Regions from separate parts of the Homo sapiens genome. Here regions 1, 3, 4, 5, 6 and 7 are each linked to region 2. The links come from fine-mapping of genetic effects on gene expression. Tissue or cell type: whole blood. Region 2 holds a variant in brackets; each other region holds the start of a gene. Each region is shown on its reference strand, or each on the opposite one.

Region 1 (4,064 bases), not on the chromosome of region 2:
AGAGTGAGACTCCATCTCAAAAAAAAAAAAAAAGAAAGAAAAAATGATATCTAATGTAATAATGAAATTTTAACCCTTGTTGCATTTCTTGTATTCCTATGAATGTATTGAACATTCAGTTTAAATAAATAATAAAATTTATTGCAAATGAAAATAATTAAAATATTATATAAATTGTTATATTTGTTTACTATACAAACTTATACATGAATAGTATACAATTAAAATGATAATGAATAAGAATGCATATAAATGCTAGTAGGAAGGGCTCAAGCAGGAAAACAAAGAAAGGCAGAAGGAATGAGAAGGCTAGAAGCAGAGGAATGCCAGGAGAAACAGAGACATGTGGGCCTGAAGGCCTGGGAGCTGAGAAGTGAGTGGTGGCCCACACAACCTTGCCAAGGATCCCATATCCAGGCCAAGGCAGGAGGCTACAGTCCCTGCTGGCATAGCTGTGCCCAGACTAGCTGCCAATCTCTTCTCCTGGACAATGTGCACTTTGTGTCCATCAGCCCTCAGAATGTGTGGTGCTGTTCACTCAGCCCCTCAGCAGGCCCCTGAGAGGAGGTGGGGCCATGTCCTTCCTCCAGCCAGAGGTGGGGGGTCCTGCCATGCTCTGCCTTAGAGCCTGAGATTGACTTGTCAAGCTATGTGAGAACATTTCAGTCACTTCTCTGTCTTCCTGTCAGGAGGGTGTGGCTGAGGCTTGTTTACCTACTGTTGGAGTGTGGAAGGGACTGATTCTTTAAGGGACCTGGGGAGTCAACCACTGCCACACCTTGCAAAGACTGGCAGTAATCGGTAAAAATAATAACTAACTCTTATACAGTGGTGTGAAGTTCCACGAGACATTAATAGTTTGGCATCTCACTTAATTTTCATGATATTTAGAAACTCAGGAAGCTGAAAGCCAGATGTCTACATAGGCTACATAGCTTGCTTAAGACTAAAAGTCCAGAGAGAGACAGAGGCTAGGATTCGATCCTAGATCTTCTCCTTCCAAACTCCATACCCTTTCCACCTTACCACAACCAATCAAAAAAATAATTATCGAGAATGCTTAACTCCATACTATGGTATTTGAGTGAGAAAACATAACGAAAAAGATGCGAGACATCCCACACCATGCCCCCAGCAGACATCACTAGTCAATCACAGTACAATTTCCTCTTGCCAGCCTCAGCATCTTTAAAAGAGTCTCCTTTATAATTGATCAGAATTGTCACTTGGGATAAAAGCTATTTTTTGTAAGTGCCTCCCTTAAATCTCTTGAGCAGGCAAAGTCGACACACATGAAAGTCTTGGAAAGCCAAAAGAGGTGCCTTAGAATCAATAATCAGGTGTAAAGCGCTGGGATAGATAGAGATTCTGTGCCCAGAAGGAGTTCTGTGTAGAAGAAAGTACGACTAGGACAGCCTTCACAAAGGTGTTAAAGACACTTGTAGAATGATTTTAATTTAGAAGATGGAGAAAGAGGCAACCCTGGCTGCCCCTCACCTGCTCTCCACCTGGAGAGCTTTTAAAACTGGCTGCCTGGGGCCCCTCCCAGACCAGTTAAATCAGGCTGTCTAGGGGTGGAGCTTGGGCAACTTTTGTTCTTTTCAATCTCCCCAGAGGTTAGGTTTCCGAAATGCAATGGGGTTGAGAATCATAATAACAAATGCACAGAGGAGGCCCGGAAAGAGGCACCTCCACTCACCTTCTCTGCTTCAGTCATGTTCTTCAGGATAGTGTACATGCAGCCAATGTTGAAGCAAATCCGGGAGTGGGGGTCCTGGACGGCACTGAAGGCATCCAGGGCTCCCTTCCAGTCCTTCTTGTCCGCTGCCAGCACCCCTTCATTCCAGAGGCTGATGGCCTCCACCAGGGACATGATTAGGTAGAAACTAGGAGGCCAAGAGAGCTGCCAGGAGACAGAGAGAAGACAGGTTGGAGCGTCTCCCCTAGCAGGGCTGCCTTAGTGGCCCCCAAGGTGTTCACTTTCTGGGCCAGATGAGTAGAATGGGGCCCAGCCTCCCTTAAGATAACTTCTCAGTGTTGCAAATGCATCAGGAAATGTCCCCACCTTTTGGCAACTGACTCATAACCCTACCATGAGAGAGAAAAGGAAAGAAGCAGAGAGAGAGAGGGCGAGTAGGGGTGGAGTGTGGAGGAGAGAGGAAGTACATCAGCTGCTGCCTGAAGGATCAGTTCCCCAAAATGCTTCTGCTCTGTCACCCAGCTCCTCTTCTCTCTCCCACCCCTGTTCTGTGGCAGCTTCTGGCCAAAGTTCTGCTTCTAGAGCCAGGGTAACCTTGGCAGGTAGAGGCACCTCCCTGGTGATAATGACAGGAGGCAGCCAAATGCCTAGGCAGATAGGGGCAGGTCCCTGGTGAAACCCCACCTTCAAGCCAAAAACAGCCTGAAGGCTGAAAGACTAGGCTACTGGTCCCAAATGAAACCCGTGACCTAGAGTGAGAACTTCTGTTCCTGTTTGTCTGCTCTTTCCCAATTAATTATTTCTGACTAATGCCTTTTAACCAATTGAATGTTGCCTTTTCCAGTACTACCTATGTCCTGCCCCTCCCCTATTCTGAGCCCATAAAAGCCCCAGACTCACCCGCACTGGGGGGACTTTCCTGCCTTTGGGTAGGGGAACCACCCCTGCATCCCCTCTCCACTGAAAGCTGTTTTCATCACTCAATAAAACTCCCCACCCAGGCCGAGTGGGCAGGCCATCTCCTGCAGCAGGTAGTGTGGCCCACTGAGGCCTGGGCAGGGTGTCACCAGCCAGAGGTTCCTGGCTTACAAAGTGATGGAGAAAAAATCCTGTGTCACTGGGCCTTGATTTCCACACCCTTGTTAAATGGGAGTGTCAGATGAGAGGATAATTCTTTCCAGTCTTGAATGAATTCCTTGCTCACTTTTTTGTAATCCCATAGGCTGTATTAATATGTTAGTGTTTATCTTGAGCTGAAATTATCATTAACAAATTTTTGAGACAGGATAATCTTTGGAGATCCATCTGATCTGGGCCTGAAATAACTTTTTTTTTTTTTTTTTTGAGACGGAGTTTCACTCTTGTTGCCCAGGCTGGAATGCAGTGACACGATCTCAGCTCATTGCAACCTCTGCCTCCTGGGTTCAAGCAATTCTCCTGCCTCAGCCTCCTGAGTAGCTGGGATTACAGAAGCCTGCCACCACGCCCTGCTAATTTTTGTATTTTTAGTAGAGATGGGGTTTCACCATGTTGGCCAGGCTGATGGTCTCGAACTCCTGACCTCAGGTGATTCGGCCTCCTCGGCCTCCCCTCAAAGTGCTGGGATTACAGGAGTGAGCCACCGTGCCCAGCCGAAATAACTTTTATGAACATTCATGAAGTTCAGAGGGGACCAATTTCCTGCAAATGTCAAAATTGGGAGCCACATGACAGTGAATTATGACTTCTCCCATCTTCCAGTGAAAAATTGAAGAGATGAAAGTCCTGCACTGATGACTAATGGATTTACTAGTCTCTGAAAAAACAGATTTAAGAGTTCTTTCCTTGCTTTTCCAGAAAAGTAAAAATCAGTAAAACCTCCCAGAGGAATAACTGGGGGTAAAGGGTATAGCCAATTTGGCTTGCTAAAATCCAGGCTTCTTTTTAGGTAAAATGCATGTTTATGGGGGTCAAATACTTAGATGCAAACTCTTGTTTTGTAGCAACTGAAAGAATTCACTCATTATCACCAAGCTTCCCCTAAAAGCCTGAAAATAAAACTTAAAAATGTATACTCCACAGTGCTTGTAGGATTGAAGGTGTGAGAATTAAGAAGACATGTGTGTCTTTGTCCAGATTGTTTTCCTGTGTTTACAAGGCCTTCCCAGCTCTCTTCTTTGCCTGGCAAACTCCTACTCATCTTTCAAAGCCCAGTTTAAATGTCACCAACTGTGCTAAATCTAGCCCTGAACTCTGGGTAGTAGGAGAATTTTCCTCTCCTTTGTACCACCTTTACCCAAAAACTTGCATCATACTTACTGCAATTTATCTCTTTATCTGCTCAATTCATGGGCTCCTTGGAAGTTGGGACCATGCCTTTTCATTC
Region 2 (4,064 bases):
ACCTGGATGGTTATTGTAAATTAAAAAAGGAAGAGATGCCACTTTTTTCTGAATAATTTTTAATACTAGGTTTATGGCTGGGTACATGTGATAGTCATTACAGCTTATTTAACTCTGAAATTATCTGGCCCCTCAAACTCCACCGGGACTGTAGAAATCTTGGGTTAAATTTTAAAAACAACATTTGAAAGAAGATGATATACTTTTCCTTGAGGAGAATAAATTCAAACCTAAAAGTGGGGGGGGGGGGAAACCCCAGCTCTCTCTAGGAAGGATCTCCATTGTTTCTCATATTTGCTATGTTTCTCATAACGTGTTTGAGCTCAGAAATTCACCCAGGCACACAAAAGGTCTACTCTAGTTGGCTGTTGAGCCCCTCCATCCCTGCAATCCAAGTTGTGCCTTTTCTATTGGGTTATTTGGAAAGAGTCCAAAAGCATTCTGAACTCTGAGCTCAAATCTCAAAGGTTTCCACTTCTTCGGAGCCGAACATTTCATCAGGGGCTGGGAGTGTGTGAGTGAGTTACACCGAACAGCTGCGCGGTACCCACCACCCTCTCCCCAAGGATGACACGCTCTGCAAAGGAGGGTGTTGTAAGCATTCCTGAGCAAGCCAGCTAATCTGGAGACCTAGCCTGTTGGCCGGGGGCTACTTCTAAGAAGCCTCCCTCTGGAATTACAGCATCTTATGACTTCTATCTACGAAGCCCCCCTTCTTCAGAGGAGCAGCTAGGACATGGGGTAGGGGAGAAGGCCAAATGGGTGAAAAAGGAATCTCTTGAGTCAGAGGGGCATTTCTTTTTGGGAACAGGATCTTGTCTCTCTTTAGCTGCTCACAGGAAGGAAAATGGGAAAGTAGGGCTTCTTTTCAAGTGGGGAGGCACCCAGCAGCCAGTGGAATGCCTGATTTGGAAGGGGCAGGAGGGAATAGTTATGTCCCGAACAACAAGTGCAAATGTAAATATGCAGACCTTTGAACTCTGAAATTGATTTCAATTCAGGCCAGCACTCCAAAGTTGTTTTATTGGGATGTCGAAGTGTTCTGGCACGTTGGTGGCTTAACGGCGTCATCATCAGACCCAGACATTTCTGGGTCCTTGGCATTTGTCTGGGTTTTAGAAACACTGTACCCATTGGCGATGTCACTCCCTGATCAGAGGCACACTGGCCACCTTCAAACCTCTTGTTCTCTTACTCCTCCTGGCAGAAGCAATGATGCTGGCGGGTCTCATCTGAGATCCGTGCCCGGCATTGGCTGAAGCTATCATCTCCTTTGTTACTTCCCAAGCAAGGCACAGGAAAGCCATCTTTACATCACCTCTATTTAAAGCACAGGGTCCCTTTTGCCTATGTCACTGAAAAACAGCAGAAGCCTGGTATCTAGTGGATTCACCCCGGCCCTCTAATGTGGTATAAGGAAAATCCTACAGAGAACATTTTCCCATTGAGCTTACAAAAAGATGTAAATTTGGAAAACTCTACCACATATCCATTTTGCACCAAAAATAGTAACATAAATAAAACATTTAAATAAGAAAACTAAAGTGGGGAGGGGAGATTTGGGGGGTAGGGAAGGGAAAGTGAAAGTCCATAGCTTGATATTAACCAAGATGGTCAATGGCTCATTTAAAAAGGAAAAAGTAGCTTATGCAAAATCTTGCCAACCTGCCTTGAAGTGTAAAGGCTTGTAGAAGTTATTGAAAATTTTGTTTTATTTATTCCCCTTAGCAGAAGAAAAATCAATGTCTGCTTGGCAAGTCAGACGTAAATGAGTTATACAGGCCACTGACATGGTGGACCAAACTTTATAACAACCACATTTGCCGCTGTCAGGCCACAGGCTTCAGTGGCGCCAGCTGTAATTATGGCTGATCACCTCTAATTCAGAGCTGCCTGCCTTGATAAAGGTGTCACTCGGAGCTACTGTGGCATCAGCATCAATTGAGGATGTCAAGCCAAAGGGCAGCTTGCTGGAGAAAGCACTTCCCCACCCCAACCCCCAGGGTCCTGGAGACCCTTGGGCAAATATTGCTTTTTAACTCTTCACCCTGAGTACGGCAACACTCCCTGAAGCTGTGATTTAAATTCCAGGGGATTCAGATGAATATCCCTGACCTCCATCAGTGGACGTCTTTAATAAGCTGAGAGATTTCTCCAAAAACACAGTTTAGAAGTCAAGATCCTCTGTGCTTTGCAACGTGCAGAGACAATGTTTGTCTTATCTACCTGATTCATTGGCCACAAAAGGCATTAGGGGCAATAGACTGTAGCACAAGCCATGGTCATTTTTGGAAAAGGAAAAAAAAATTGCA[G/T]CTTCATGCCTTTCTTCTGCTTTTGTGGTATTTAAAAAAAATTCTAGCGAACTTCCCATTTTCATGTTACTTTTTTCTTTTTGAAGGAAACATGAAGTGTGGGGAGAAATAGCAAAACGGAGAGATGATGGGGTTAAAAAGCCCTGCTAATAGAGTAGTGTCTGGACTGTTGTCATTGTCGTGGTGGAGCCCTGAGTGGGGAGGTGTGAAGTGAGGGGTAGAATTCAGCCATTAAAAAGGCTTCACTGTCATTTGTGAAGGATCATGCTTGACTGCCCCCACCTCCCCAGGCTGTTTTTCCTCACTCTGTAATTAAAAAAGAGACACACATACTGTCTGTTCTCCTCTTTAAAGTCACAGACGGCCCCACCCACACCAGCACCCCCTCCAGCGAGTTGAGTTGTGGGGGCACAGCCTGTCTTTCATTTTAAGGGAGAACTTGTCTTCCTTCCCTCTCCTTTGGAAGGTTCACCTGAGGGTGGAGTGCTAATCTCAGAAAGGCAAGTTTTGTGTTTTGTGGCTGGGGTCTTTTTCCTTTAGCACCTGACAGGGTGACCCATAGGGGCCAAGGGAGAAGTGACTGTGATTTCACAGCCCTTGGTGGCTCCAGACACGGGCACGTGTTTGGACCAGAAGTGGTTTTGCCCTCGCTGACAGGGAGGTCAGATGCGAGAAGTCTCCGGAGGGCTGGTGGTTGGCATTCAGCAACAGAAAATCCCATCCAGCTCCAGGAAAAAAGGGCCCTGGGCGATGGAAACCCTGTCACCTGGTTCTGAACCAAAGCCCAAGCTGCTAACTGAGGTTAGTTTTTCACACTCAGACCTTCCAACCTGCCATCTTTCACTCCCTGCTTCCCCATCTCTACACGTGTCTTGATGTTATTTCCCTTTCTCCAAACACAGGGCACTCTTTTTTTTTTTTTTTTTTAACCAGTATTTTTTTTTTGTTTCCAGCAGAACCAGCTGACCCCTGCCTGCAGAACTCCGGGTCCCTCTTGGAGCTCTCTGATGGCAGCTGTAGGGCCATCCCCAGCGGCACTGTTTCCCCCTTTGTTTACCCGTTTCTAAGGGCAAGTGCACCACGAAGGCTCTCCGAGCCTGGAACTCAGCCTGGGGCTGTTTTGGTTACATTGAAGTTTTTGCTTCAGTTCTGCCAGATTTAAGTGGTGACTTCACTAGCACTGAGCTAAAAAGGAGAAGGGGGAGGAGGGCGAGACCAGGAGAAAGAGAGCAAGTGAGCGAGAGCCCAGCCGGAGGGAGAGCCAGAGCTAGGCGCAAAAGAAGGGCCAGCACATTACATCATCGCTTGGCCTGGAATCAAATGGGAAGGATATGACTCACTCAAGCTAGTTAAGCTTTGGCTCAAATTCTACACACACTCATTCCAGAGCTCTCATGTTCTGCACCTCAGGAGGGAATTCAGCCTCAGTGATGTCCATGAGGTTTGTTTTTAATTTTATTTTCTTTTCTCCTGATTTTATAGATTTTTTTTGCCCCTACTGCCTTCTGTTTTTGAGCCTTCGTCCTCCTCCTCCTCCTCTTCATTTTCTCCCCCTTCTCCCTTTCTGCCCGTCTTTGTTTCTCCTCTTCTTCCTTCTCCTCTTTCCCCAGCCCCTCCGCTCCTCTTCTTGCCCGAAGAGGCATTTCTTTTCACTTCGATCAGAGTTTTTGTTCTAGCACAGAGACCTGAATGAGTTGAACAGAGGCCGGGTTGGAGGAAAAAAGAAAAAAAAAAAAAAGCAGAGCAAACCAA
Region 3 (4,064 bases), not on the chromosome of region 2:
GACAGAGCAAGACTCCGTCTCAAAAAAAAAATAAATAGATAAAAAATAAAGATTCTCAGAGGCAGGACAAACAGCAGGAGGGAGTTGAGGTCACAAGGGGCAAAACTTTGAAGATGCTAGCAAGATTTAGTTAAGGACCACAGGCACATATAGTTTTAGCTATATGGTATTTCATGATGACTTTTCCAAGAACAATTTTTGGGGAGGAGTGGCAGCACATTGAGGTGACAAGTAACAAGGAGGTGGAGCCTGTGAGGACAGATGGCTTCAAGAGTTTGACTGGAGTGGAGGAAGGGGAGACTAGAGAGACTTGGGGTGTTGGGAGGTATCTAAAGGCAAGTGGCTTGTAAGTGTTTAATTGCTGGAAAGGAGGAGGAGGGAGCTTGGAAAGGGAACAGTAGCAAATGTGAAGGGGGCTGCAGAGCAGTGTGAGCCTCTTGGAAGCCTATTGGCAATCACAAGAGGGTGGAAACAGTGCCCCAAGTGAGGGCACTGAGGAGCAAGTCCAAGGTGAAGTGGGACAAGGAGGATTGAGGCCTTCAAGTCAGGGTCTGTGCAGTCTGTAACCAGCCTTGGCACCACCATTTCTGTGCAGGCCGACTGAATCCAACTGACAGTCCCTGAAAAGAGCAAAGGCTCTCTTCTCCGGTCATGCGGGAGGGTCTACCCATAGACTTCTGGGAAGGCCAGATGTGAGGGAGGCCAGGGAGTTAATAGGTAATGCCCCCAAACAGCTCTCAACCCATGACTAATGGAGATTTGAGAATGAGTATCTCAGCTCCCCTTGTTCTTGGGGGCAGCAATGATGTAAGGCCTATGTTCTACGCTGGCTCCCAGAATCCCCAGCAGGATTTGGTCCCAATGGCCCACAGTGGTAGCTTGCTTGATGACACTTCCTTTATTGGCTGCTTTCCTTGTCTCCTTGCCACTGCTGGTGTTTCTTGGCCTCACCTCCCATACTAACTATATGCATGTATATCTTTGTCCAGGTCTGCTTTGGGGGAAACTAAGATAAGCACTGTCCATGAAAGGGGGACAAGGCAGTGAGCAGACACAGACAACTGCAAGGACCTCTTCCCACAGGTACCACTGACCTGTACAAATGGGCCCTCAGCTTGAAGACTTAGCTAATACTCTGAATGCTCAGAAGATAGGCAGGGCCAAGGTCTGGGCCTGAGGTAGGTGGGCCCCTGTCACACTAGTTTGCTCTTGCTTGACCCCAGAATTGGTTAGAGGCAAGCTCAGGATACTAAAAATTGATAGTTATAATGTGCCTTGGGTCCCAGAGTAGCCCAGGTCTCTCAGGCCCTACAGGATGAGGCCAGAGTGACCCACTGGGAGGTCCCCTGGCCTCTGACTCTTCCAGCACATTCTCTGCTCAGTATCACTCCTTCCAGGAATTCTCCCCACCCAGGTTTGTAGAAGGGCCAGTGCCTTCTGTTCCTCCACCCCCGCTAGCCTCAGTGTACACTGTAAGACCTATTCCTGCTTTATGCCCAGGTAAGGGCGCCCCAGGCTGCCCCCACACGACAGAGGCCCAGGCCATGTCCCCAGTGGCCTCCAGGGGGCGCCGCCGGGAAGCCTGTAATTGGGCTCCTGGGAGCTCCGCGGAGGTGGGCAGGCGCCGGCCCCTCAAGCCCTCGGGTTCGGCTGGCCTGCTCGACACAGCCTGCGCACCCAGGCTGGGTCGGGCTCAGAACTGCCCCTTGCCATACACGTGTTGTGTCGCTCGCCGCTGCCTCATTTCTACTCTTGCCCGAGGTCGGACGCTAAATTCTGTCAGGCCCAGTGTCCAAGTGTCCGTTTATCTGTCCGTTTGCATATGACCGTAGATCGGCACGCCCTGCTCCAGCTGCGGCATGTGCAGGGTTAAGGCGAGAGGAGGTTTCCCTGAGTCGGAGGGGGAGGGGGGCGAGGGGCGGACCTGGCCCAGCCCCGCCCCGCGCCGGAGCAGTGCCGGAGCCCCGCCAGAGCCCGACTTCAGCCCCAGCCAGATCCCGCGTCAACGGAGGCGGAACGGCGGACCCCGTACCCTGGCAGCATCGGAGCACCGGCGGGTGAGTCCCGCGGGAACCGCGCTCAGGGGAAGTTTGGGGCGCGGGGTGTAGAACCCCAAGCGCGTTAGCCCAGACCCGCCCCCCACATCCTTGAGCTGGAAGTTTGGGGCCAAGAGGCCCTCCTGCCAGGGGTCCAGGAGTGTAGCCACCAAGAGAAAGGGGTGGCTGGAGAACTTGGGGATCTCCTGCGAGGGAACCCAGAAGTCCAGCTGCCCATTCCTGGTGGAAACGCCCTGGACTCAGACCCTGGAGTCCTGTGGTCATGAGATTTCTCCAACGGCCCCCCGCCCCAACCCCACTTCTGGACACCAGGGAATCTGGCTTCTGGGGGGGTTTGGAATGGGCAAACTCCTGAGGGGGGACCTCGAGAGGAGAGTGTGGAACCCTGGTGTTTAGTCCTCCCCCTAGTCTGAAACACACCCTGACTCTGGTCTTTTACTAGTGGGAATGGTTTAAATTAACCCTGTGGAATGGCCCCCAGGATGTTGTAAGGATACTCTGGAGTCTGACCCCTGACAGCAGGCGTGGGGACCCCCAGGCTGCCCAGGGCACCCTGGAAGCCAGTAAGGACTCCCCTCATGCAGGACCAGCGTGAGGCTTGTTGAGGGGAAAGGAAGGGTCCTGGATGGAGAGTCCTGTTCTAGTCACCTTACTACTGCCCTCCTAGACCCAGATTTGACCCAGTTGCTGAGTGGTTTGGGTAGTGGGTGAGAAGGAGAATCCTTCATGCCTCCATGGGAAAGGGGAAAGGCTCCTGGGTACCTGGGGCCTGCCCTCCTTCCCACTCCAGGAGGGCCTCCACAGTGGTGTGCTAGCCAGAGGGGTTGGGTTCTCCCCCTGCCTTTCCCACCAGTGATTTTGGGCCAGCCCTGCCCTTAGCTACAGGCTGCTTATTTGTTTCCTGAGGGGCCGGTCAGTGCCCTGACCCCTGTTTTCCCTCTTTCCTCCAGGTGAAGGCAAGGTCCCTGGACTGGTCATATACCTCTTGTGGCCCTGGCAGAATCAAGATGAGGCCCTGTCATGCCTCCCCAGTGAGGCCTACAGTCTGAGCAGACAGCATGGCCTGCCACTGGCAGTGAACACCATGTCTGCAGGAGGTGGCCGGGCCTTTGCTTGGCAAGTGTTCCCCCCCATGCCCACTTGCCGGGTCTATGGCACAGTGGCACACCAAGATGGGCACCTGCTGGTGTTGGGGGGTTGTGGCCGGGCTGGACTGCCCCTGGACACTGCTGAGACACTGGACATGGCCTCGCACACATGGCTGGCACTGGCACCCCTGCCCACTGCCCGGGCTGGTGCAGCTGCGGTAGTTCTGGGCAAGCAGGTGCTAGTGGTGGGTGGTGTGGATGAGGTCCAGAGCCCGGTAGCTGCTGTAGAGGCCTTCCTGATGGATGAGGGCCGCTGGGAGCGTCGGGCCACCCTCCCTCAAGCAGCCATGGGGGTTGCAACTGTGGAGAGAGGTGAGTGGCCTCCCAAGGAAGGCACTTCAGGTACCCTAACACCTTTTATTATTTCCTGACTTAGTCCCTTACCCTCAGAGACTGAACAAGAGCTGTAATTTTTACATGGGTGCCCAGGATGTGGCCTTGTCCCCTGTATCCTTTCCAACCTAGATTTGAGCTGCTGCCTTCTATTAACTGCCTTTTCTGGCTAAGGTGGGAGGCAGAGCCCAAGCCGATCCCAGGATGATGGGAGACCCCAGCCATGTTCCTGCCCCACTCCTCATTTCTAAGAGATGGGGGTGGGATGGCCTAATGACTCCCAGGGTTATAAATAGTCTGGGGTGGGGGAGAGGAGTAGGGCCTTGGCTCAGAGCCTGTGCTTAGACTTCCTGCCCCACCCCCAACCCTTCCCACACGCCAGGGAGCCTGATATGGACAAAGGCCAAGCTGATCTGGGATGGTTGCCATGGAAGCCCCCAGCTGACTGGCCCATTACCCTAAGGCCCCCAGACATGTCGTAGCTGACTCTGAGGGTTTAACAGAGGGCAAGAACCTACTATAATGA
Region 4 (4,064 bases), not on the chromosome of region 2:
TCTCAGACAAAAAAAAAAAAGAATAGGACTGAGACCAGTGTACTCTCTTGGAATGTAGCTATGGCCCTGCAACCCCTCCCCGCAAGCTGTCCAGTGAATAACTGAATTGGGTGGAAGAAGTCCTTCCCCCACATTTGTACATTGGAAAATAATATAATAATATATATTATATATATATAGGCAATCTGCCTGCCTCGGCCTCCCAAAGTGCTGGGATTACAGGCATAAGCCACCATGCCCAGCTGGAAAATAATATTTAGTACTAATTCTAAAATTGGCATTTTCTTAAAAAAGGTTACATGAGCTCCTCAGAGAACTGAAGTTTCTCTGGACCCATATAACCCACGTCTATGGGGTCATTCCCACACCTCACAGATAAAATAAGGGAAAGAGTACATATAATTAGGAGCAGACAGGAAGCACACAGAAATGGAAAATGTGTGTGGGCTTTGGCATTGCAGATCTGAATTCAAATCCTCACTCTGCACCTTATGAGGTAAGTATCCCTAGACATGTTACTTAGCCTTTCCGAATCTTGCTTTCCAAATCATGCATAATATTCACCTCCCTGGACTATTGTGAAGATTAAACATGAAAGTAGTTGTGACAAAGATGGTCAGTGGGTATTATCTGTCTTCCTTTCTAGTAAAAAGGCTCTAGACTAGAATGTTCTTAGGTCTTTAATAGGCTTCAGCAATCTCACATGTTAATATTAGTGTTATGTGCTGAACTGGGCTTCCCCCAAATCCATATGTTGAAGCCCTGAACCTCAGAATGTGACTGTATTTGCAGACAGAGCCTTTAAAGAGGTCATTAAGCTCAAATGAGGCTGTTATGAGAAGAGGAAATCGGGACACACAAAGGGAGATACCAGGAATGTGCATACAGAGAGAAAAGGCCAAGGAGGGAGGCGTGGGGAGAAGCCAACCCTGCTGACACCTTGGTCTTGGACTTGCAGCCTCCAGAACTGTGGGAATATAAATTTCTGTTGTTTAAGCCACCCAGTCTATGGTATTTTAAACACATTAATACGACTAATATTATAAAAGTGTGTGAACAGTTAAGAAGTGTGCTGACCAGGTTCTATCCTAGTTTTGTAGACAATTAGCAGTGTGATGTAGGGCAGGACATTTAACTCCTCTCTACCACATTTTCCACCTCTCAAAGCCAGGCTGCAAGGATCTACTGAGATAATGTACATAAAGACCCTATCACGAAATAGGTGTCCCGTAAAGGGTGATTTCCTTCACTTCTGTCTCCAAATATCAGGTTTCTCATCAGTAACTTGGGAGATTGGATGGACTAAGTAGTCCACCTCGTTCCTTTCAGCTTTGATCATCTGTGATTCTAACAACAGTCTTAGCAACAAGAGTGAGTTTCCTGGCCGGGCACGTTGGCTCACACCTGTAATCCCAGCACTTTGGGAGGCTGAGGTGGGCAGATCACGAGGTCAGGAGTTGAGACCAGTCTGGCCAACATGGTGAAACCCTGTCTCTACTAAAAATACAAAAATTAGCTGGGGCGCGGTGCCGGGTGCCTGTAATCCCAGCTACTTGGGAGGCTGAGGCAGGAGAATTGCTTGAACCCAGGAGGCAGAGGTTGCAGTGAGCCGAGATCACGCCACTGCAGTCCAGCCTGGGTGACAGAGCAAGACTCTGTCTCAAAAAAAAAAAAAAAAAAAGAGTGAGTTTCCTTTCTGTAATGCCAAAAAGTGTTTCCAAAGTCCTTTCCATCTCACAGTAGTCCAAGGGGTACATGTACCCCTTGAACCTGATGAAGCCCCAGCAGACCCGATTAACCACCCCTAAAGGTTTCTCGGCAGGCAAATCCAGCCAGGCATGCAAATCACACTCGTCAATGTTAAGGCTTTTGTACATCCCAGACACAAGCTTTAAATGAATGTAAACCCAGATTTTAATATTTGGGCCCCAGACCTTAAAAATCCCATTCTCTCTACCCACAGTACCTGGCTGAGCAATCCAATTGCCCTCTTCTTGGGAGACCAAGACATGTTTTTAAAATAAAGTTTCTTTGTATTTGCTTTCCGTTTCAGTGAGGCCTCGAGTTCTTGTAGACCAGATACCTTCTTGTTCTGTGAGAGGACAGTGTACAGAGAGGGGAACTGCTGAGCAGTTCCTTTTTTTTTTTTCAAAGCACAGTAAGAGTGGTTTGGACACAAGTACTACCAGTTCAGAAAGGGAAGATGGGTGTAGGCAGGAGTAGCCGGGGAAGAAGTAGAACTTCAGAGTAAAAGATGCAAGAGCTAGAAATTCCGTCAAGAAAGGAATTACTCATTTGTTTCCTGTTTGTTCACAACATATGAATTCATTGCTGTTGAGTTACTTATTCTATACCTTAAAATGAAACAAAGTCTTCTGAACATCCAACATATATTTTTTTTCTTTTTCTTTCTTTTTTCTTTTTTTTGAGACAGAGTCTTGTTCTGTCACCCAAGCTGGAGGGCAGTGGCACAATCTCAGCTCACTGCAACCTCTGCCTCCCGGGTTCAAGCGTTCCTCCCGCCTCAGTCCTCCCAGTAGCTAAGACTACAGGCGTGCACCACCATGCCCGGCTAATTTTTGTATTTTTAGTAGAGACAGAATTTCACCATGTTGGCCAGGCTGGTCTCGAACTCCTGACCTCAGGCAATCTGCCAGCCTCAGCCTCCCAAAGTGCTGGGATTACAGGCGTGAGCCACCATGCCCAGCCACAACATGTATTTTTAATGCTTAACCATGGGAGATAGAGCGGTAAATGAAATGAGCCAGCTTAGTTGGCTAAAGCACATTGCTACTGCATTCAAGGTCATGCTTACCCCTGTACCTTGAATCCCAGAGGACTTCCAGCAGATGTGTTCTCTCAGTCAGCAGGGTTCTGGGCAAGGTCACACAGGGCAAACAGATCACCAGTTTTGGTCCACTCCACCGATGACGCACGGGGACACCCTCCGGAGTATAAACAGCCAGGGGCTTGCACAGGCACACTCACATTGGACGTTTGTGTTCACAGACTCCAGGAGGCCAGCTTATACTCAGCTGAGGACTGAAGAAATCTCTCTGCACTTCCCTTGAGGATGACATTCTTGCATACTCTTTCCTCTGTCTTTGCATAAACTACCAGGAACATGTCTTTGTGTTACATAACTTCTTATTTCAAAAAGAGCATTCTGACAGTAGCCTATCTGCCATAGAGGGATACCAAAGTTTCCCGGCAAATAAATGTCTACATCCTGGGTTTTCTAAGGGGGCATCAGTGTCAGTGTTTCCCAACTTGTGAGGTGGGTTTCTCTGAAGTGAGATTGAGGGCTACACTATCAGCTAGATTTTTAAATTGTAATGAAACCTATATATAAACATATGTTCAAGAGAAAAAACTGCAAAGACAGCCACCAAAATAGTAATGATGCTTATTGCTGGGGAATACAATTATAAGCAATTTTAAATTTCTGTCTTTGGCTTATCTGTATATTCTAATTTTATTTATCAACTTATTTATTTTTTATTTTATTTGTTTATTTATTTATTTATTTATTTATTTGAGACAGAGTCTCGTTCTGTTGCCCAGGCTGGAGTGGAGTGCAGTGGCTCAATCTTGGCTCACTGCAACCTCTGCCTCCCAGGCTCAAGCAATTCTTGTGCCTCAGCCTCTCAAGTAGCTGGGATTTCAGGTGTGGGCCACCACCATGGCTAATTTTTTGTATTTTTAGTAGAGACAGGGTTTTGCTATGTTGGCCAAGCTGGTCTTGAGCTCTTGGTCTCCAGTGATCCACCTGTGTTGTCCTCCTAAAGTAATGGGATTACAGGCGGGAGCCACCATGCCCAACCTGTATATTCTAATTCTTCATAGCAAACACCTATTACTTTTGTACTAATAAATGATGTAATATAGAATAAAAAGGGAAAATGTAGAAATATGGTTGTAGTAGGCTGAATAGTGGCTACCCAAATATCCCAAATCCTAATCCCTGGGAACTGTAAATATTGTGTCTTTCCAGATATGTTCCATTTAAGGCTCTGAAGATGGGGAGAGAATTCTGGATGATCCAGGTGGGCCCTTAATAATGG
Region 5 (4,064 bases), not on the chromosome of region 2:
CACATTACCTTGTTCATAGTTGAGAGAACTATACCTATTGTTATCTGAAGAGCAGGTTGAAACCAGAAGTAAAATATTCTGTACTCAAGGTGCCTTTAAGGAATAAGCAAAGCTCTTTGTCTGAGCGTGGTGACTCATGCCTGTAATCCTAGCACTTTGGGAGACCGAGGCAAGAAGATCCTTTGAGGCCAGGAGTTTGAGACCTGCCTGGGCAACATAGCCAGACTGTAAGGCTAAAAAAAATAAAAAAATTAGCCAGGCCTGGTGGCACATGCCTGTAATCCTAGCTACTCCAGAGGTTGAGGTGGGAGGATTACTTGAGCCCAGGAGTTCTGGACTGCAGTGAGACATGATCTCACCACTGCACTCCAGCCTGGGCAACAGAGTGAGACCTTGTCTCTAAAATAAATAAAAATAAAACAACAAAACCCAAAGCTCCTCTCTGTGGACTTAATTTTTTTTTTTTTTTTTGGAGATGGAATCTTGCTCTGTTGCCTATGCCCGAGTGCAGTGGTGGGATCTCAGCTCACTGTAACCTCTGCCTCCCATGTTCAAGCGATTCTCCTGCCTCAGCTTCCCAAGTAGCTGGGATTACAGGTGTGCACCACAATGCCCGGCTAATTTTGTATTTTTAGTAGAGACGAGGTTTCACCATGTTGGCCAGTGTGGTCTTGAACTCCTGACCTCAAGTGATCCGCCTGACTTGGCCTCCCAAAGTGCTGGGATTACAGGCATGAGCCACCGCACCCGGCCTAAAAAAATTTATTTTGATGTTATGCAAGAAATCTGATTTAATATACCAATTTGGGATAATTTAATGAAAAAAATGCTTATAGAGATATTATAAATGTGTTTATACTAATTAGTCTTCTTAGTAATATTCCCAATGCTGACTTTTATTTATGACTTTCTTAAAGGCAGAATTGTGATTTAAGTATTGAATGTCTTTGCAACCAATGAAAAGTTAAGACTACATAGAATACTCATAGGATACACAGAAGAGGAAAGTACCTTTGATAGCTTTTATTTAATTTTTTAAAATTTGATCTTAAATTTCTTGTATTTGAATTTTATTTGAGTAGGTAATATTTGCAAGGTTCAAAATTCAAAAGGCACAAAAGGATACACAATAAGGAAAGAGTCTTTTCCCCATTGCTGTGTCCCACCTACTCAGGGCTCTCCAAGCAATCAAAGTGACAAGTTACATCCAATGGTATTCTACTAATACTCTGTGTGATAGCCTCCTCGCCACCATTTTTAAAAGATGATGTTGAAGGAGTTGAAGCCTGTAAAGGCCTTATTAAGGGTGCCTTATTATTTGAAGCAGAAGTAGTGCCTGATTCTATGTCTCCTGACATTTCTTTCAGGACTCTGTAATATTTGCCTAAGTCACACTGCTTTTGTAAGGTGGCGAGTTGGCAATGATTAATCAATGTGGATGGTACAATCCGGTAATTTAAGTTTCGACTGGTTTAAGATTGAGACAACCAGAAAGGAAGGCTTATCAGAAGGGCGGCAGGGGAGGAGATTTTTGGTTCATCAAAAGGAGGCAAGGGTTTTAAAAGGCTGACCTAGGGCCTGAATCACATGGTTTGACTTTTGCTAAGCCCCGGGGATGGCGCGTGTCAGGCCCAGAGTGCTGATGCCAGCGTGGATCCGAGCCAGGCCTCAGGGGACTGGCGTTCAGACCTCGGGCCGCTCGCATCTCTAACAATTTGAGCCCTACTTTAAGGTGTGGCCACGGTCCCCACCCACTCTGATCTCAGACTGGGCACGGTACGGAAGGCGGGCGGATGAGGCCTCGCCCTCGCCTCTTTAGTAGGTCGGGTGAGTGTAGTGTGCAGGGAAGAGACGCGTCAGCGCCAGGGCCAGGCCCGCCCGGGGGCAGCCCGGCAGCCGAATCTTGGGCTACTCTGTCCCAACAGCCGGAGCAGATCAGACCGACCGGCCCTGCCCGCTCGGTCCCGCGCCCTCCAGACCCTACGGTCTCCGTTTCTAGGGGCACATGGTTAGCGGCAGGCGCCCACAGCCAATCCACTTTGCCAGCCTGCCCCTTCCTCTGCCAAGAGCAGCTTCTTCAGCCGCGCTCCAGTTCCGCAGACGCCTGCCCCACCCTGCTCTTCCCTTCCAGGGAAGACGGATCACGCGGCCAAGAACGAGACTCGCAAACTGGGCATTTCTCCGAGCCGGGCTAGAGCAAGTAGCGAGACTCCGCGTGAGAGTGGGAAAGAGCCTTAACAGGCAACCATGTTGCCCAGTGGGTTTTCTGTGCCTTTGGGTGCGGACCAATGAGGCGCGTGGGGCGGGACTTCCGCTTCGCCTAGGTGTTGTCGTCCCTGCTAGTACTCCGGGCTGTGGGGGTCGGTGCGGATATTCAGTCATGAAATCAGGGTAGGGACTTCTCCCGCAGCGACGCGGCTGGCAAGACTGTTTGTGTTGCGGGGGCCGGACTTCAAGGTAAGACCCTGTCCGGCTTCGCGGCAGCCGGGCAGCTCGTTATCGAGCGGCCCAGAGAACATACCCCGCTTGTTGGCCCTCGAGCTCGGAGTCGGCCCTGCTGCTGAGGTCTTTGCTGCTCCTCTAGAGCTGGGTGAGAAGTCAATTAGGCTTTTTGCAAAAGGAATAAAATAGCCTTGCCCTCGGGGGACCGAGTCTCCCCTGCACTCTCATTCCGCGAGTTTGTGTGTGTCCAAAGTTGAGTTACCGGTTTTGCTTCTCTCATTCCCTTCTTGAGGCTGCAAGAGCCTGCCTGGAAAACATGTTTGGAAGGCTTTTCTTGGTCAAGTACCTGCCGCAACGTCCTCGGGCACATCGCTTGACTTTAGTTGAGGGGGCTGTTTTGTCTCTGAATAGAAGGAGGGCAGTCACTTCCTCTCTTTTACCCCCACCCCCTTTTTCTTTCCCTGGAAGCTCAGATTGCAGGTTTGGGACTTAACCCCTGCTAGGGCCAGATACTACGGTCAGTCAGCAGCTCTGCCTGTATGCTTGACTTGACTTGACTTGCACTTATTAAATAACTTTGTCCCAGAGAGAAAGAGAGAGTGGGCAGACATCGAAGCCAAACAGCAGTATCCCGGAAGCACTCATGCAACTTTGGTGGCGGCCACTCAGTTTTCTCTGCCAGTGTCTGGTAAATTCCTCTATTTTGTCCTAATCTGACAATAGTAAATAGTAAATTTCCAAAACTGTCGTTTCATCATCAGTTTCAGCACCGTGGGCAGCTGCTCGGGTCCTCTCTTGTTGCCCCAAACCTGCCCGGCTATTACTGTTCGTCAGTGATGCAGCAGAAACAGTGAAAACTGATGCATTCCTTTCAACAATGATGTGTTTGTTCTCCAAGGAGAACATCTGCAGTTTTTGATACAATATAAATAAGTAAGGTGGCTGTGCCTCCAAAGAGTTCTTCTGGAGAAACAGATCAATTCAAGATTTAAGGTAGGGCTTTCAAGAGTTTATGCTATTTAAGCACAGTTTTTTAATGGGTGGACATTAGCTCCATCTCGAAGTAACAAAACTGGACAGTGATAGCAATTAAAAAGAACTTTAAACAGGAGGTAAGAAGTGTAGTGCAGTGCTGTAGTGCAGGAAGTGTAGTGCAGTGCTGTAGTGCAGGGCCCATAAGGATTCATTAATAGATTTTAGAATCAATTTAGTACATTGACATAAGCTTTATAAAGAAAGAAAAAATACCAGAGGACATTGTATGGAATAAAAGTAAATATTATGGCAAGAAGCTTTTGTTTCAGTTTTTAACAGTATGTGTGTGTCAAGAGGAAGATGGAAATGTAAAGTGTATTATGGATTATGGCAAAAACAAATGTTTCAAAATACTAAATTCCAAATTTGGGAGTCAAGCTGGGTTCAGCTCTGCCATTTACTAATTCTGTGACATTTTCCGTAAATAAGAAATGAGTTGTTATGAGGATTAAATGAAACAAAATTTGTCTATTACATAATTTTTTTTTGTTTTGTTGGAAACTGTTGGAGAGAGGCACAGTTATTTTTCTCTATGTAGGGAATGAGAACTGTTTTATTAGTTTTTTTTTTTTTAACCTCTGCCTTTG
Region 6 (4,064 bases), not on the chromosome of region 2:
GAAGGCCAAAGTAGGAGGATCACTTAAGCCCAGGAGTTTAAGACCAGCCTAGGCAACGCAGTGAGATCCATCTCCACTAAAAATTTTAAAATTTGCCAGGTATGGTGGTGTGCACCTGTAGCCCCAGCTACTCAGGAGAGTCAGAGAATCGGCGCACCCCGGAGTTCGAGGTTGCAGTGAGCCATGATCACGCCACTGTACTCCAGCCTGGGTGACAGAGCAAGACACTGTCTCAAAAACATAAATAAATAAATAAATAAATAAATAGGCCGTGCGCAGTGGCTCACGACTGTAATTCCAACATTTTAGAAGGCGGAGGCCAGCGGATCACCTGAGGTCAGGAGTTCGGGACCAGCCTGACCAACGTGGTGAAACCCCCAACTCTACTAAAAATACATAAATTAGGCGGGCGTGGTGGTGGCCGCCTGTAATCCCAGCTACTCGGTAGGCTGCAGCAGGAGAATGGTTTGAACCCGGGAGGCAGAGGTTGCAGTGAGCCAAAATCCCCTCACTGCATTCCAGCCTGAGACTAAAAAAAAGAGGCGATTTCCCACATCGGTGGAAATTTGAGCTGTTTAAACTCTGGATGCCTTTTTCAGTTCTAATATTCCAGATCTCCTTGGTGGATAAACACTTCATTTCCCTTCTCCTGAGCAGAGCTCCTGAGCCCTGGCCCGCTGGGAACCTGTCACTTCTAAAAAAGTTCGAGGTCCGGACTGTCTCTCCCGGAGCCTTGAGGCTGATGAGACGGAGCGAGAGAGGGGCCGGGGCCGAATGGAGTCTACTCGCGGGCCCAGGGAGGCCGCCAGAGGGCGCCCGGGACCGACCGCAAGAATAACTTCCTTCCTCTTCCGCTAACTTCCCGGCAGCGCGCCGCTCAGGGTGGGGGCCCCGAGGGCTGGGGCCGTCGGCTTCCCCCTGGGGATCCCCCGCTTCAGAGAAAGCCAAGCGTTAGGCGCAGCCAAAGCCGAGAGGCAGCGGAAGCTCCCGGCCCGGGGTGGCGCTGGGTCAGCGGGTACCTTCTCGGCGGTCCCCTGGCCGGCCGAACTCGCGCCTGGTGTCCTGTCACCCCGCTCCCCGCCCTGAGTGAGCCTGTCCCCTCTCAGGGGCGCGCCCGAGTCGCTCCGGGTTGGCTGCGCCAGTCCAGAGTTAAACTTTCAGCCAATGAAAAAGGGCGCGAGGCGTGACGCACGGAAACGTCATGGGAATTCCCCCCTCCGGGGGGCCGAGAAGGGGCTTTCCCGGCCCTGAGCCCTGCTGGCAGGCGAGGTGTCGCGACCGGTCCCAGGTGGGTCGGGCGCGGAGAGAAGCCGCAACCAGAGCCGCCGCCACGGTGAGTGGCTGGATTCAGACCCCTGGGTGGCCGGGACAAGAGAAAAGAGGGAGGAGGGCCTTTAGCGGACAGCGCCTGGGGCTGGAGAGCAGCAGCTGCACACAGCCGGAAAGGGCGCGCAGGCGACGACACTCGGATCCACGTCGACACCGTTGTACAAAGATACGCGGACCCGTACGTACACCTGTACCTGTGCTGGCGCACACACGGCAGCGTCCGTGCAGTCGCACTCGCACACACATGCACACGGAGACGTGCCCACCGGTGCACTGGTGCCTGCACCCACACCCTTCACGCACAAACTCAAGATACGCTCACCCGTGTCCGTACATCAAGACAGGCGCTGACACACACCCACACTGAGAAGCTCGGGATTCACCTATCTACACACATGCTCGCTTGCACACTCATGTTGACGCCATGGACACACAACATGCAACCAAGCACTACAGCCGAAACACACTTGTGGAGCTGTGATGGAGACACACTCTTGTATTAGGTGGGGGGGGGGGGGGGGGAGCGTGCAGAGATCTCCCTGTCGCCTGCGCGCCCAGAACCGGTGCGGTGTGGGACCAGCTGCTGTTGTGAGGTTTGGGAGAGAGAGAAAAGAGCCCACTCCGAGGAGGAGACACTTTTCCCGCAGCCCCAGAATCGCGTTCTCGGGGCAGAACCCCGGGGCCTCCCACAGGAAAGAGCCCCCGCCTACAGGCTGTTCGAAGGGGAGGCCGTCCGACAGCAGGAATGTCCCCCCAAAAGCCCCCGGGGTTTATCAGCCGTGGCCTCCCTCCTGGCAGAAAATCCCAAGGTTGCTCCAGACCGGGGGAGGGGAGCGGGAGGCGGACTTGGCCCCAGACTGCCAGCCTCCTCCCGGCCGTGAAAGACCCTCCTGTTCCCTGCCCTGGAGGGAGGAGGGGGCTTAACCCCCACCGGGGCTTCCCGGATTCTCCTAGACCTCTGCCCGCTGAAAAGCAGCGGGAGCCCGTAGACTGTCGAGGGCCTCCCGCCCCTCCCGTCGCGAGGGCGGGGCCAGTGGCGTCATTTCCAGGCCCGCCCCCTCCGGCCCCGCCTCCCCTTGGTATTTTCGGGACTTTCCTAAGCTGCTCTAACTTTCCTGCCCCTTCCCCGGCCAAGCCCAACTCCGGATCTCGCTCTCCACCGGATCTCACCCGCCACACCCGGACAGGCGGCTGGAGGAGGTCGGACCCTCCCCCAAATCTGGGCCCCCATCTCCCGCCCACCCCCATTTAGATCTGACCCCCTCCCCCACGCCACTCCTCCCAACTTTAGGCGGGCGTCTAAAATTCTGGGAAGCAGAACCTGGCCGGAGCCACTAGACAGAGCCGGGCCTAGCCCAGAGACATGGAGAGTTGCTACAACCCAGTGAGTCATGCCGCCTGCCCCTGACCCGGCCGGCTGCCCCTCGTGTCTGTCCACCTGTCTGCCCGAGCCCCCTCTGCTGCCTTACACCTGTATGCTCGCAGATGCTCTCAGCCTGCCAGTCTGTCCATCTGTCTGCAACTCTGCCTCCAAAAGGAGCTTTCTCTTGGGTCTGAGGAGGAGGGGGGAGTGACCACTGAAGACTTGGAGATGGGAGGTGGGGCTGTGGGGGGTGCTGAGAGTCGGATGCCACCCCCAGTCTGTCTCCAAACCAGGGTCTGGATGGTATTATTGAATATGATGATTTCAAATTGAACTCCTCCATTGTGGAACCCAAGGAGCCAGCCCCAGAAACAGGTCAGCAAGTTCACTAACCTCCCCTAGTCCTAAAGCGGGGGAGGGAGAGCATGTGCCCTCTCTCTGGGGGAGGGGCTGGGAGATCGTGGCTCAGCAAGGTCTCTCTGTCCCCAGCTGATGGCCCCTACCTGGTGATCGTGGAACAGCCTAAGCAGGTGAGTGAGCAAAAGGGAGGGTGTGGAATGGCTTCAGCTTTGGGGACAAATGGGGTAGTGGTAGCTGGCTGGCCATGGAGGAGCCATTGCCGAAGGAGGCCACAGGGGATTGGATGGTCACTGCTGCTGATCAGAGTGCTGTAGTTTGGTTCAGGGCTACTACCAGGCACTGCGGTCACTGCTGGCCTGGGTGGTCTTCCCTGATCACAATGCTACTATGCCCTTGGACCTTCAGAGAGGCTTCCGATTTCGATATGGCTGTGAAGGCCCCTCCCATGGAGGACTGCCCGGTGCCTCCAGTGAGAAGGGCCGAAAGACCTATCCCACTGTCAAGGTGAGCCAGGATGGTGCTGGAGGGTGGGCTAAGTGGACAGCATGCCCAAGGCCCTGACTGACAGTCCCTGCCTCTCCTAGATCTGTAACTACGAGGGACCAGCCAAGATCGAGGTGGACCTGGTAACACACAGTGACCCACCTCGTGCTCATGCCCACAGTCTGGTGGGCAAGCAATGCTCGGAGCTGGGGATCTGCGCCGTTTCTGTGGGGCCCAAGGACATGACTGCCCAGTAGGTGCCCTCTACGCCTGGCCCCCACTGGTATGCCCGTCTGCCAGTCCCAGGCCCCAGCCCACCTCCATGAGCTTAGCATCTGACCAAGGGGAAAGATGTAGGTTGGCCCCAAACCCAAGGGCCTAAGTAGAAACTCCAATGGCTTCCTTGAGGAAGTAAGGCTGAGCTGAGCCCTGGCAATGGGAAAGGTGCCTCAGGAAGAAAGAACTGCATGGCCAAAGGCCTCCGATTCTCTCTTCTCAGATTTAACAACCTGGGTGTCCTGCATGTGAC
Region 7 (4,064 bases), not on the chromosome of region 2:
CTCCCCAGCCCCTGGGGCCTGGCTTCCCCATCTGCAAAACAGAGCTGTCTCTCAGGCAGAGTTCACAGCTGGGAAAGGGTTCTGAGAACTGAAGTGGTCAAGTGAATGAAGGCAGCACTCCCCTGGGGTGGGGATGCTCATGCTTCATCAGGATGGGGCATAAACTGAGTCCCCCCAGGAGCAGGCTTGAGAAACAACAGGGTACGCTGAGCTACCTGCTGTGGCTGAAGGTCCTGTGAGCTCAGGGCCTGGAACTGGCCGCAGGGAAGCCTGGGGCCTTAAGGAAGCTTCATGACAAGGCACATGGCGTGATTCCTCCACTCTCAAATCCACAGGATGCACTGGTAGAGGAAGGTCTGGGACATGTGCTGAGGGCTCAAGTGGGCTCCCCACTCAGGCCTGCTCACCTCAGGGCACAATCATAAGAAAGGAGGGGCTGCTCCCCAGGGCAGAGTGAGGCCCCATTCTGGGCTGGGACCTGGAATGCATCCCACCTGGGCTTCACTGGGTGCCTAGGCCCCTCCTAGGCCAGGAATCGGAGAAGGGGGCTATGAACTTCCAGAAGCCAAGCTAGCCAAACTTCCAGAGGCCAAGCTAGCATTCTTATGAAGCTAGGGCACTGCTCTGACCTCATGAATTTGCTTGGCTGGCATTTTGCTGCCTGACCTGTTCCCATGAGCCCATTCAGGATCTGGGGCAGGTCAGTCCAGAGCTGGTCCCTACTCCTGCCCACCTGCCTCCAAGGCTCAGCCCCACCCCTTTCTCTGACCCCTCAGGCCTCTAACTGAGACCGCAGCTCTCTGAATCCCAAACTGTGAGAAAGACAGTCCAGACTCTGTCCATCACAGATGCCCACAGGCACAGTACTTAGTTGACAAATCCATGTCTCTCTCGTTCATTTTATCCTAAGAACAGACACGAGAAAAAAGCAGGATGAGGAGCATGATCGCACCCTTACCCTCCAGATGGGAAACTGAGGCCCAGAGAGGCCTGGAGCACTGGTGCAAGCTGGTAGCAATACTCCAGGGCTCCCTAGCCCTAGCCAGTGCCTTCCTGTGTCCAGGCCTCAGCTTCCCCTGGGGACAGTACAAGTGTTGGGCCAGATGCTCTCTCAGGTCCCTGCGTGGCATCCATTTATTGCAGACCTCCCACCACCTTGCAGTGAGGGTGGCTCTGGCTGCTGGGAAGCCCACTTTCAGCACGTGGGGTTTAAATGCTCCTGCTGTGGGTCTCCCCACTGAGTCCCCTCCCAGGGTGCATGCTGATGGGAGGGGGCAGCTGGCAGTCTGCCCCGGGGCTGTCAGTGTGGGTCCTAGGAGGAGGGATCAGACCCAGTCCTGGGGAGGGCTGGGGGCCTGAAAGGAGCATGATGAGCCCAGGCTGCGTTTTCAGTCTTGCTAGAAGCAGGTCTGGTCCCCAGAAACAACTAGAGACAGGCCCAGGCCGGGACAAGCAGGCTAGGGGGCATCATGGGAGGTGTCTCAGCTTATCTCCTCCCTCTTGCGCCTCTAGCTCACTAATCCCGCCTCTCATCTCACCTTTCTCTAACCCTCTCAGACTGCAGGACCTAGGGCAGCAGGGAAGCTTATTTGGCCTGAGCCTTACCTGCAAAGGGCTCAAAGGTAGACTTTTGCTATTATATTCAAATTGCAACGTATAGATGCTCATATTTTGGAATTAATTACGTTTTAGCAGTTTTTCTTTTTTTAAAAAAATCTGCTGGTACCTTAATAAACATGGAACCAGCAACCTTTTGCCAGGTGTCTGTTCTCCGGGTCTCTGGGCCTGGAGGCGGGAGTGTTTCAAAGCACTTCACGCTCCGCGGCCCCACCGGCTGGCTGCGCTGCCCGCTGCGGCCGGCAGGGGTAGTCCACGGACAGGCCTGGAGGAGGCGGGACGGGGGCAGGGCCGGGAACCTGGGCAAGCCAATAAAGGCTGCGGCGCGCGGCTGCGCGGGACTCGGCCTTCTGGGCGCGCGCGACGTCAGTTTGAGTTCTGTGTTCTCCCCGCCCGTGTCCCGCCCGACCCGCGCCCGCGATGCTGGCGCTGCGCTGCGGCTCCCGCTGGCTCGGCCTGCTCTCCGTCCCGCGCTCCGTGCCGCTGCGCCTCCCCGCGGCCCGCGCCTGCAGCAAGGGCTCCGGCGACCCGTCCTCTTCCTCCTCCTCCGGGAACCCGCTCGTGTACCTGGACGTGGACGCCAACGGGAAGCCGCTCGGCCGCGTGGTGCTGGAGGTGAGACCGCTCGCAGGGCCGGCCTGGGCGCGGGACACGGGCCCGGGGAGAGCCCTGGGCCCCGGGCGGCGCGGTGCCGGGCGCGCTGGGTGACCTTGGGCCTCCCCATGCCGAGCTCTGGGCCTCAGTTTCCCCATTTCTGAGAATGGGCGTCAGAATGATTTCTTCCGGCCTCCCTCGGAGCACTGGAGCGGGGGAGACGGGAGGGAGGGCACGTGTGGAGGAGAAAGCTCAAGGTCAGATCGCAGAGAGGGAGGGCTCAGCACCTCTGGGCCGGCCCGGGCACGAGGGAGGGGCTCCAGGAGCCTTCTGGGGCTGAGCCTAGATCCGGAGCTCCGAGGTGGGTGTCGGGGGTCTTGGGGTGAGCGTCGTGGCCCAGCGGGTGCTCACGTGGCGGCCCTTGCACAACACGGAGCGCTTCCTGGCTCCGGCCCCGCCCCTGCGGTCGGGCTCACACTGGGGGTGCTGGGAAATGGAGCGAGAGGTGGTTTCCAGCAGTAGTGCGGGCCCAGTAGGCCTCAGGCCCCGGCCACCTGGTGGACCCCAGAATGCCCCTCCTGCGAGTCGGGACACACTCAGAGACAGTGTGCCCGGCGCCTCAACCCCTGCCACTGTCCTTGGGGGCCACACTGAGCACCTCCCCTAACTCTGTTTTTGGGTCTTTTCTAAAGCAAAGTAAGAAACAGTCACCAGGGTAGCTTTAGAGGGAAAGCCCTAGTGGAGCCTTCAGGTCGGCCACACATTGACAGCAGGGGTCTGTTTGTGTTGACTGGCCCGTATCCCAGGGAGCCCTTAGTATTTCTTCTTCATTCTCAGTTTCTTCTGGAAAATAGGGACACCCTTCCTGCTTCCATTTGGTTCCAGGGTGGGTCTTGCAGCTTCGAGGGTAGAGGCTGGCTGGGATGGGGCTTCAGCCTTCCCTCCCCACACCCTCATGCCTCTCCCTGGGCCTCAGTTTCCCAACCCCGAATGGAGGAGCTGGTCTGGCTTCTACCTTAGACACACTCTCTTGTCCCTGAATTTCTGATGCTTTGGGCCCAGCTGTGGGAGCACTGCCAGCTGTGTCCACAGAAGTAGGCCAAGATAGCATTGTCATCTCTTCTGACAGATTAGGAAACCAAGGCCACCTCCTCCAGCCTTGGGTTCAGGAAACGGCTCCCAGAAATGATAGAGCTGCCTCCCATGGGGGTTGGCAATAATGGGAATGGAATGTCCACGTGCTTCTTCCTTAGCCTCCTTGGCCACTGTGGGGGTGGGTGGGTGCTGAGAGACACCCACCTTCACCTGCCTCTCCAATGACCATCCTCTTTTGTCCTTCTTCTCCCCCAACAGCTGAAGGCAGATGTCGTCCCAAAGACAGCTGGTAAGACAGGGCCTGGGGCCTTCTGAGATGGGTCTAGAGGGAAGGGGGCCAGGCAGGGCAAGGTGGGTGGCGTGATGAGAAGAGTCGGGGCTCAGAGACCCCTGACAGATGGGAGCTCCATGTGTGGCTCAGCCATTGGGTGCTCTGGGGCAGCCCTGCCATCCCTCTCTGGGCCTCAACGTTGGCTCTGCCCTCCTCTCTCATAGTAGCTGGGAGCCTCAGAGCCAGTGGAAGGCACATGTAAATTTCCCGGAGACTTCCCCACTCCTGGTGCCCAGTGAGGCAGGGTGATGGGCACACAGCCCTTGAGTCCGTGCCCTGCTGGCCAGCACAGCCATGAGCCTGTACTCTTGTCACAGTGCTCAGGTACTGAGGACAGGGAAGGGGAGTGACTTGTCCAGTTACATAGCGAGTTGGGCAGAGCAGACCCAAGAGGTGGGCCAGAGTCTTTATCCCCCTGTTCACTGCT

The links.
Region 1: NCF2 starts here. The variant in region 2 is fine-mapped to the expression of NCF2 in whole blood (TOPMed, PIP above 0.99).
Region 3: it holds the start of KLHDC8B, and the variant in region 2 is fine-mapped to the expression of KLHDC8B in whole blood (TOPMed, PIP above 0.99).
Region 4: NLRC4 starts here. The variant in region 2 is fine-mapped to the expression of NLRC4 in whole blood (TOPMed, PIP above 0.99).
Region 5: it holds the start of RNF13, and the variant in region 2 is fine-mapped to the expression of RNF13 in whole blood (TOPMed, PIP above 0.99).
Region 6: it holds the start of NFKB2, and the variant in region 2 is fine-mapped to the expression of NFKB2 in whole blood (TOPMed, PIP above 0.99).
Region 7: PPIF starts here. The variant in region 2 is fine-mapped to the expression of PPIF in whole blood (TOPMed, PIP above 0.99).

What each region holds. Positions count from the first base shown.
Region 1 is chr1:183,588,457-183,592,520 of GRCh38, forward strand. NCF2 (neutrophil cytosolic factor 2) reads right to left here and starts at 2,003. Exons shown (of 15, transcript NM_000433.4): 1 at 1,700-2,003. The coding sequence starts at 1,873. RefSeq lists enhancers at 2,023-2,282, 2,393-2,732.
Region 2 is chr7:28,682,445-28,686,508 of GRCh38, forward strand. The region is part of intron 5 of CREB5 (cAMP responsive element binding protein 5); the gene reads left to right. Among named protein-coding and RNA genes, the nearest start is that of CREB5, 270 kb to the left of the region's middle. RefSeq lists enhancers at 2,709-2,758, 2,975-3,483 and a silencer at 2,867-3,036. The variant G/T (reference allele first, on the strand shown) is at 2,313.
Region 3 is chr3:49,169,629-49,173,692 of GRCh38, forward strand. KLHDC8B (kelch domain containing 8B) reads left to right here and starts at 1,970. Exons shown (of 6, transcript NM_173546.3): 1 at 1,970-2,057; 2 at 3,008-3,517. The coding sequence starts at 3,142. RefSeq lists silencers at 1,496-1,665, 1,886-1,985.
Region 4 is chr2:32,262,772-32,266,835 of GRCh38, forward strand. It overlaps NLRC4 (NLR family CARD domain containing 4), which reads right to left and starts at 2,115. Exons shown (of 9, transcript NM_001199138.2): 1 at 1,967-2,115.
Region 5 is chr3:149,810,897-149,814,960 of GRCh38, forward strand. It overlaps RNF13 (ring finger protein 13), which reads left to right and starts at 2,319. Exons shown (of 10, transcript NM_183381.3): 1 at 2,319-2,457. RefSeq lists enhancers at 1,676-2,187, 2,053-2,162 and a silencer at 1,693-1,842.
Region 6 is chr10:102,393,268-102,397,331 of GRCh38, forward strand. It overlaps NFKB2 (nuclear factor kappa B subunit 2), which reads left to right and starts at 2,438. Exons shown (of 23, transcript NM_001322934.2): 1 at 2,438-2,529; 2 at 2,621-2,713; 3 at 2,986-3,067; 4 at 3,182-3,222; 5 at 3,458-3,556; 6 at 3,637-3,788; 7 at 4,035-4,064. The coding sequence starts at 2,693. RefSeq lists a silencer at 704-1,103 and enhancers at 1,114-1,403, 2,454-2,503, 2,914-3,033.
Region 7 is chr10:79,345,512-79,349,575 of GRCh38, forward strand. PPIF (peptidylprolyl isomerase F) reads left to right here and starts at 1,958. Exons shown (of 6, transcript NM_005729.4): 1 at 1,958-2,232; 2 at 3,565-3,595. The coding sequence starts at 2,038. RefSeq lists cis regulatory regions at 1,625-2,202, 1,702-2,743, 1,702-2,375, 1,702-2,253, 1,702-2,252 and 5 more, silencers at 1,732-2,141, 2,162-2,391 and an enhancer at 3,706-4,064.